2 separate regions of the Homo sapiens genome follow, and region 1 is linked to region 2. The links come from fine-mapping of genetic effects on gene expression. Tissue or cell type: nasal epithelium. Region 2 holds a variant in brackets; the other region holds the start of a gene. All regions are shown on one strand. Distances are between the middles of the regions.

Region 1 (4,279 bases), 50 kb before region 2:
ACATGCCACAATGTGGGCCATTGAGTGGGACAGGTTAAACTAAGCTAGTAATCTAATCACTTTTATAAACACTCTGAGGATTAGAGCTGGAGGAGCTCTTAGAATTTATGCAGTTCAACCTCCTCATTTCACAGATGAGAAAACTAACTGCAGCACAAAAGAGAGGAAATGACCAGCCCAGAGTCCCACAGGTGGTAAATATCAGAACCACTAAAACTCAAGTCTCACTGGAAACATCTAATTTTTTCCCACCATACCTCAATGCAATTCTATCAATACTTTTAATGGGGAAAGAAGTTTGTTTTCTAAATAAGCAAGCTAACGACAAACCATTGTGACAGGACTGATGAAGTTGGGAGTTGCCAGTATTCTCTAGATGGCCAGCTGTTGTTTCAGGTGTGTGTGGGAGTGAGTCTGTAGGAGGGAGGGTGCTGGAGTGGCACTGTGAAAATCAGGAGACTAATGAGACGGGTAACTTTAGACAAGTTCCTTCCCTTCTCTGGACTGCAATGTCCCCATATGATTACGGAAATCAGGTGTACCCAACTAAACTAGAGGCCCTTTTGGGGCAAGAATTTTGCTATACACTCTCAGGTTCTAAGTCAACCTAGAGGGCCTGACTCAGTACTAAATAAGGCAGACACCTGAATAATTATTGACTGACAAGCTTCAAGTCTCCCTCAGGTCTCTACTCAAATGCCACCTTTCAGCAACATTTGTTTTCTTCTCGATCCACCCTTTTTACAATGGCAAACCCCTTCCCACCTGCTCTGTTTTTCTCTACTTAACACCCTCAGACATATCATATATTTTACCCCCACCCCCCGATATGTCTGAGGGCAGGCACCTCATCTGTTTTGCTCACTGCTGCATCCTCAGCCCCTAAACACTGCCTGGCAGCATGTATTTTATTGACTGAATCCATAGAGGGCATTAAGGTTTCCTAATCAACATTTCAACTTGGATTTCAAAGCACATTGGTAAAAATGCAATAAGCATATATAAGTGTTTGTGTCAATGTGATAATAAAACCTATACAGTTTGGGGCTTTCATTGTCACCAAAAACGTCCAGAAGGCCATTCCTTCCAGGAGCTGCTCCTAAGGAAGTCATTAACTCCCAATTTTTCACAACTGCCAGGTTGATTAACTAGAAGTTACCAAACAGGGTGAGGGATATACACAACTCTCTGAAGTATCTTTGCAACTTTTCCATAAATCTACAATTACCCTAAAATATAAGGTTTATTAAAGAGAGTGGGGTGGGGGGAGCATCTGCCGGGATGCTATTCTGGATTTCCCAAAGGATTTCTTCGACGCCAGAGGAGGTCATGAGCGTCACGTCCTTTTTCAACAAGGACTGAGATGTTTAGAGGTTCCCTTCAACTTCCACTCGCAAGAGCCACCCTTAGACAGTGAGGATTGGCGCGGCCTCGGGCAAAGAGCCCCGGCGCGTTCTCAGCTCGCCTGGACTTCGGTCGTGGTCCCCGCCGGCTCTGGCGCCTCATTTCCTCCCGGGCTCACAGGCGACATTCCGGGCGCTGACCCACGGCCCTCTGACGCCGTGGGCATGTTTCGGGCCCCCCGCCCCCGCACGCCTGGACGCCAGCCTCCTGGGCTCTTCCCACTACAAGTCGCAGCCCTCTTACTTCGCTGCCGCCACCTCCGCCGCACCCGGAGTTCGGGAAAACCCCGCAGCTCCCGGGTCCCACCTCGAACCGGCCCCAGTACCGGGCCCCAGAGATCCCGCGCGGGAAGCCGCAGCCGCCGAGCGCGGGGCCTCGCGAGGGCAGCCCCCAGCACCCACCCCAGCTTCGGCCCTCCGCCCGGCGTTGACCTCCGGGGCCTTTCAGCCGTGACCCTCACCGCCCTCAGCCCTCCGGCCGCCCCTCGGGCCCCGAGGGTCGCACTCACCCGTAGGCGCGGCGCCCCCGCCCCCGCCCCCGCCGCCGGCGCAGAGCAGCAGCGCCCACAGCCCGCAGAGCCGCGCCGGCCACTCCATGCAGCCTCTCGCCTCGGAGCCCGGCCGGGCTGGAGCCTTGGCAGTCCCCGCCTCCTTCGCTCCCTCTTCCACTTCCCGGCTCCGCCGCCCTGGAGGCTGGGGGCCGGCGCAGACGGGAAGGGCCGCCCCGCCCACCGGCCTCAGGTAACCTGAGCCGGCGAGAGCGGCCGGAGGAGGCGGGGCGGGGCGCCGGCGGCTCTGGCGGCTCTGGCGGCTCCTACGGCTCCCAAGGCTGGACACCTGGCCCACCCGCAGCTCCCGCGTCCGGTCTCTGACCGAACAAAACTTCTTCCACCACGTCGCCGCCCACTCCGGGCGCTGCCTGGGCCTCCTCCCTCCGCGTGGCGGAGCCGGCGTCGCCGCTGCCAGCACACTTGCGGGGCCTCGGAGGTGCTAGGGGCTGTGCCCTGCTGGACACCAGGACAGAGTCATCTGCGGAAAAGAGCCTTGGCCTGGGAGTCTGGAGACCTGGCTTCCAGCCCTTGACCTCTGAGCCCTTGTTTGCTAGCGCTGACTCCAGGGTTAGTAATACCAGCCCTACTTCACTGGGTGGAGTTGGGGACACTGGCAGTACTGTGCTTTGTGAAAAGGACAAAGGGCATATTTGAAAGCTGGCAATACATAATGTTGATTTTAAAAGGAACATTCCAAACATGAGGGAGGATACCATACGTGCATTTTTTAAAGCACACGACAAACTTTCTACATATTTTTCAAAGGGATGGGAGGTGAATCGGAAGAATACACATTGATACTTGGGCGCCTATGAGGGTCAGTGAGGCTGGGAGGAAGGAAAACAAGAGTCCTTAGGCGTTTCCTGTTGCTGCTGTCAAAAATGACCACAAATTTAGTGATTTAACAGTTTTATTTTATTACAGTTCTGGAGGTCAGAAGTGACACTGAGCTTAAATCAAGGTGTGGGCAGAGATGTATTCCTTCTGGATATTCTAGGGGAGAATCTGTGTCTTTGACTTTTCCAGCTTCTAGAGGCTACCCACATTCCTTGGCTTGTTGCGGAACTACTCAGACCTCTGCTTCCCTTGTCGTATCTGACTCTGACCCTCTTACTTCCCCTTTTCCCTTATAAATACCCTTGTGATTAGATTAGGTCCACCAGATAATTCATAATAATCTCCCCATCTCAAAATCCTTGATTTAATCATAACTGAAAAGTCATTTTTGCTATGTAAGTTAACATATTCACAGGTGTTGGGGATCACGATATGGAATCATGGGAGGGGGACATTATTCTATCACCTTCTCCCAAAAAAGAATCATGTCTAGGTGGATGATGAGACCCATAATGAGGTGTATTTTGGCCGAATTAAGCCAATGCATATACCTGAAAACAGTTACAAAAAGTATAGCAATAAAAATGCTGATAATATACCTAGTCTAGACCCCACCCAAAGGGCACAGGGTTGTTTAACCTATTCACAACAAAGGTTCCACTCTTGGAATTAAGGCTCTCAAACTCAATAAATATTTATGAAATTGTTCCAGGAACTGTTGAAGACACTCACCAAAAGCAAGCTCTGCTAACAGAAAGCTGCAGTCAGTCTGAGGGGCAATGATAAGGGCAAGAACAAGGAATTATGGGATACAAAAAGGGTACCTTTTGGGAGGGAAGGAGCAAGGGAAGCTTCCAGGAGGAGGGCCTGCCTGTGCTGAATCTCAGGATGTTGATTCTTTTGGCTAACGGTTCAGAATAAATTCCAGAATCCAGGCATGGTGGCATGCACCTGTAATCCCAGCTATTCTGGAGGCTGAGGTGGAAGGATCACCTGAGCCCAGGAGTTCAAAACCAGCCTGGGTCTGTAACAGAGTGAGACCCCGTTCTCAAAAAAAAAAAAAATAAATCCTGGCTTGCATGTGTTATCGAACAAAATAATGTTTATGAAAACAGTTTGTAAAGTATCAAGGCCTGTAGAACTGAGAGATAGTATCATTATTTCTAAATCCCTCCCACAAATAGGTCAGCCACTGTGTATCCCAAGGCCTTTCCTCCACCACCACGGACATATACACTTGTTGACATTTGCTATAAACATTATACAATAAGTTTATAATAACGTTTCCAAAATGGTTATGTCATCTGCCTTTTAAGGAGTCTTTAGTTGGAACAGGAGCCCCTGGGGACTGGCTGAGTGCCATCATGGGCACTGCTTGGCATAGATTGACCAAGCGCTTAATAAAACAGTAATGGTAGCAAATGATTAGAAAAATAGGGATTGCAGCTTGTCATGAGCTTCCAGAAAAGCCCTGAGAATCTGAACATC
Region 2 (4,000 bases):
GTCTCTAAGAAACATAAAAAAATTAGCTGGGGTATGGTGGTAACACACCTGTAGTCCCACCTATTCAGGAGGCTAAGACAGGAGGATTGCTTGAACCCAGGAGTTTGAGACCAGCCTGGGCAACATAGTGAGACCCCGTCTCCACACACACACACACAAAAACCCCACAAGAAACAAAAATAAGCCAGGTGTGGTGGTGCACACCTGTAGTCCCAGCTACTCAAGAGGCTGAGGTGGGAGGATCGCTTGAGCACAGGAGGTCAAGGCTGCCGTGAGCTGTGATCGTGCCACAGCACTCCAGCCTGGGCGACAGAGCCAGACCCTGTCTCGAAAAAAATTAAAAGCGGCCAGGCGTGGTGGCTCAGGCCTGTAATCCCAGCACTTTGGGAGGCTGAGGTGGGTGGATCACTTGAGGTTAGGAGTTCGAGACCATCCTGGCCAACATGGTGGAACCCCAGCTCTACTAAAAATACAAAAATTAGCCAGGTGTGGTGGTGAGCGACTGTAATCCCAGCTATTAGGGAGGCTGAGGTGGGAGAATTGCTTAAACCCAGGAGGCGGAGGTTGCAGTAAGCCAAGATGGCACCAATGCACTCCAGCCTGGGTGACAGAGCAAGACTCTGTCTAAAAAAAAATAAAATAAAATAAAAAGAAAAGAAAAAAATATACATCTTGATAGATTCATATGGACACTTACAAATCTCTCATGCTTTTTAATGTCTAGGTGGTTATATCCATTATATGGGTAATACCGCCATTTCTTTAACCATATGGACATTTAGACTGCTTCCAGGTTTTTGCTATATAAATTTTGTGGCAGTGAACAACTTTAAACATATACATTTATATGTGTACATCTACAAGATAAAATGTTAAATGTGAAATTGTTGGGTCCAAGGACACATACATTTAAAATATTGGAAGATATTGCCAAACTCCTCTTCAAATTGCCTTTGCCCTTAAGCAGATTTTGTTCTTTGGCAAGGGAAAAGAATATTTTTAATTTTTATTTTCACAAACTGAGAAAACAATAAATATATTTTAAAAGCCAGAACTGCTTATTATGTCTGTTGCCTGTGGGGAACTACTAAAATATGATACATAACAAACATCAGGAGTCCAGCCACCTGTAGTGGTTTGTCGCTAGCATTCTTTGGCCCAGTTTTCAGAGGCAGAATAAGGTAGAAAACTGCATGTTGCACAGAAAGTCTGACTTTTCATTACCTTTCCATTTATACAGTAATCAATATTGTGGGAACAAGTCTTACACTATCTGGCTGCAAGGGGAGAAAATCTTCTGTTGTCTCAATTCAACGAAACAACACAAAATAGTGAAACTGATAAGGAAAGAAGTAGAGAGTGTTTGCCATATATTACGTTGAAACTACCACCAAATCTATTTTTAAATGTCTTAGGCATGTGTTTAAGATAAAGTCATCTCCAAGAGATATATGTAAGTATACAAAGTGAAGAGATTATTTTCGTGGTAGACAATGAAGTGTCTTTACAATAGCCATGGGCTTTTTCACTCTGGTAATGCTTCCTGCTAGCTTTTAAGTGTTCTGCATAGCACTGCGCATATCATAGTCACTCAGTAAATATCACTGTGGATACAAATCTTGAACTTTATATGA[G/A]CTTCCTACCCTTAAAAATCAGCTCTAAGTCTGGGCACACCCAAGGCAACTAAGGACAGTCAGGCATTCCTACAGTGCTTCCCCCAAATCCTGTCTATAGGGAACTATGCATTTCCTAGGAAAGGGCCTCTCTTGCTATAATATAAGCCTTCTCACTATGCCTTGGCAGGGCCTAGTGGGATGGATAACCTTTAGAGCAAGGCTCAAGGATCTCTCCTAAACCTATTTCATTGCAAATGTTAACTACAGTCACTATTACTGAACTAAGGATATCTTAGAATAAAATGTGTGCCCCAAGGTGATTTTAATCATGATGTAACGGAGAATCATGATGTACAATAGCATTTACAATAATATCTAACCTTTAGTGAGCATGCTAGCTTGCTATTATTAGTGAATGCTTTTTATGTACCAGGAAAGTGATTATACTTTCCATATATTAACTCATTTAATCCATACAACAACCTCATGAGGAAAATACTACTATTATTATCTCCATTTTATTACTAAGAACGATGAAGCACAGAGAGTTAAGTACCTTCCCCATGGTCACACAGCTAGTGAGTGGCAGAGAGTAGAGATTTGAAGCTTGGTATCTCTGACTCCAAAGCCCCTGTTCTTTCTTTTATTATCTGGAAAGCTCTGTTTTCATGCTTCTCTACCAGTTAAAAAAGGAAAAAGTCAGGAGCAATGTACAATGCCTGGAACTAACAAATAATGATTTCAACATGTAGGGTATGTGTTACCTTGTCTGAATCCTGAATTATTTTGACATTCTCCGTACCAAACTTTTCACCATAAAGTTTAACAAGTCTCAAGGAAATTTCTGAGAGGCCAGTGAGCTTTGGTTCTTTATAGATGTACTCCTTTCCATCTTCTTCTTCAAAAAAAGACTATTATAAAGTTAAACAAATAATAACTTATAAATAATATGAGCAAACACAACATTTAAAGAAAATCTACTAAATAACTAGTAATAATATATTTGAAATAAATTTTGAATAATATTACTAAAAGTCCCATGCTTGTATTTACCCTTTTAATTTCAAATACATGAGAATTTTTAAATTCCTGGTAATTTTCAAATTTATAATCACATAAACATATGGCCTGAGGAAGATTTCCAAACTAGGTTTTTTCCTTCCCTGTACACTTACCTGTTTTTTATTTAAAAGTTTTAACTACTATATATTTAATATGTACTTTAAAAAGCTTAACAGAAAATGAAACTGACAGAAATCAAAACCTTTTCTGTTGTATTCTGACCTGAAGGGTTTAGATATGAGAACCAAAGTGAACTTTATACATACAAAAGAGGCTCCCTGCTGTTGTAATAGGCACTCTATCTGGATAGACTCCTAGCTGCTATAGTAAACTAGTAATTCAAAGGTGAATGTTTAAAAAGGAAAACTTTATGGATTCAAGTACACTTACTTGGCCATAAAAGGCAACTCTGAAGAAAGTGCCTAAAAGTCTCTTTTTTGTATGCATAACTTCCAGAATTTTTGTGTAAGCTCCATGAAGAGTTCTATAAACTTGAGTAAGTTTCTGAAAAATAAAAATATACAAATCAGCTTTGTTTTTTGTTTAATTACTAAATGTCTTCAAGATGAATGTACAAAAATAAAAAGCACCAGTATATTCTTTTCAAAATGGTCTTGGTGGGGCCATTCATACTCATCTCCCTTTGTAACAATCAAAGTCCTCAACAACTTTAGGTCTAAGGGTAGAACTTAAAATGGTAAAATAACACTGTATTTCTTTTTAAAAGAAATTTCTTCTAAAAAAAAAAGGGGGGATACATGTGCAGAATATGCAGGTTTGTTACATAGATAGATGTGTGTCATCGTGGTTTGCTGCACCTATTGGCCCATCCTCTAAGTTCCCTCCCCTCACCCCCCACCCCACAACAAGCCCTGTGTGAGTTGTTCCCCTCTCTGTGTCCATGGGTTCTCATTGTTCAGCTCCCACTTGAGTGAGAACACGCGGTATGTGGTTTTCTGTTCCTCAATGACAATGTATTTCTTAATATCATGCTTCATTTCATTCACATCTCAATGGAAATTTTAAATTTTGAAATACTGTATTATCAACTACTATTTTCTACAGGATCGGAATATTTTTAACTGAAAGGGCAGCCAAATGCTTTGCTTGAGCCCTCAGGTAGAGAGCTATGAGAATAAACAATCCATGTATTTAAAAAGGAAAATAAAATGCAAATATAAAAATAAGCAATGGTGTAAGCTGCAGTGAGGACTGCTTTTATGCAAGTTCACAGATATTTCCAAAGGATATGTTTTTCCGCACTTCCAGAAAAAGAGAGCACGTTGTGCAAAGAACATTATCAAAAATGTGAAAGACGAGCT

Evidence for each region. PIP is the estimated chance that this variant, and not a neighbour inherited with it, causes the effect.
Region 1: IL13RA1 starts here. The variant in region 2 is fine-mapped to the expression of IL13RA1 in nasal epithelium (TOPMed, PIP above 0.99).

What each region holds. Positions count from the first base shown.
Region 1 is chrX:118,725,360-118,729,638 of GRCh38, reverse strand. It overlaps IL13RA1 (interleukin 13 receptor subunit alpha 1), which reads right to left and starts at 2,033. Exons shown (of 11, transcript NM_001560.3): 1 at 1,913-2,033. The coding sequence starts at 2,000. RefSeq lists a silencer at 1,995-2,424.
Region 2 is chrX:118,675,118-118,679,117 of GRCh38, reverse strand. It overlaps DOCK11 (dedicator of cytokinesis 11), which reads right to left. Exons shown (of 53, transcript NM_144658.4): 47 at 3,069-3,182; 48 at 2,381-2,527. Among named protein-coding and RNA genes, the nearest start is that of IL13RA1, 50 kb to the left of the region's middle. The variant G/A (reference allele first, on the strand shown) is at 1,635.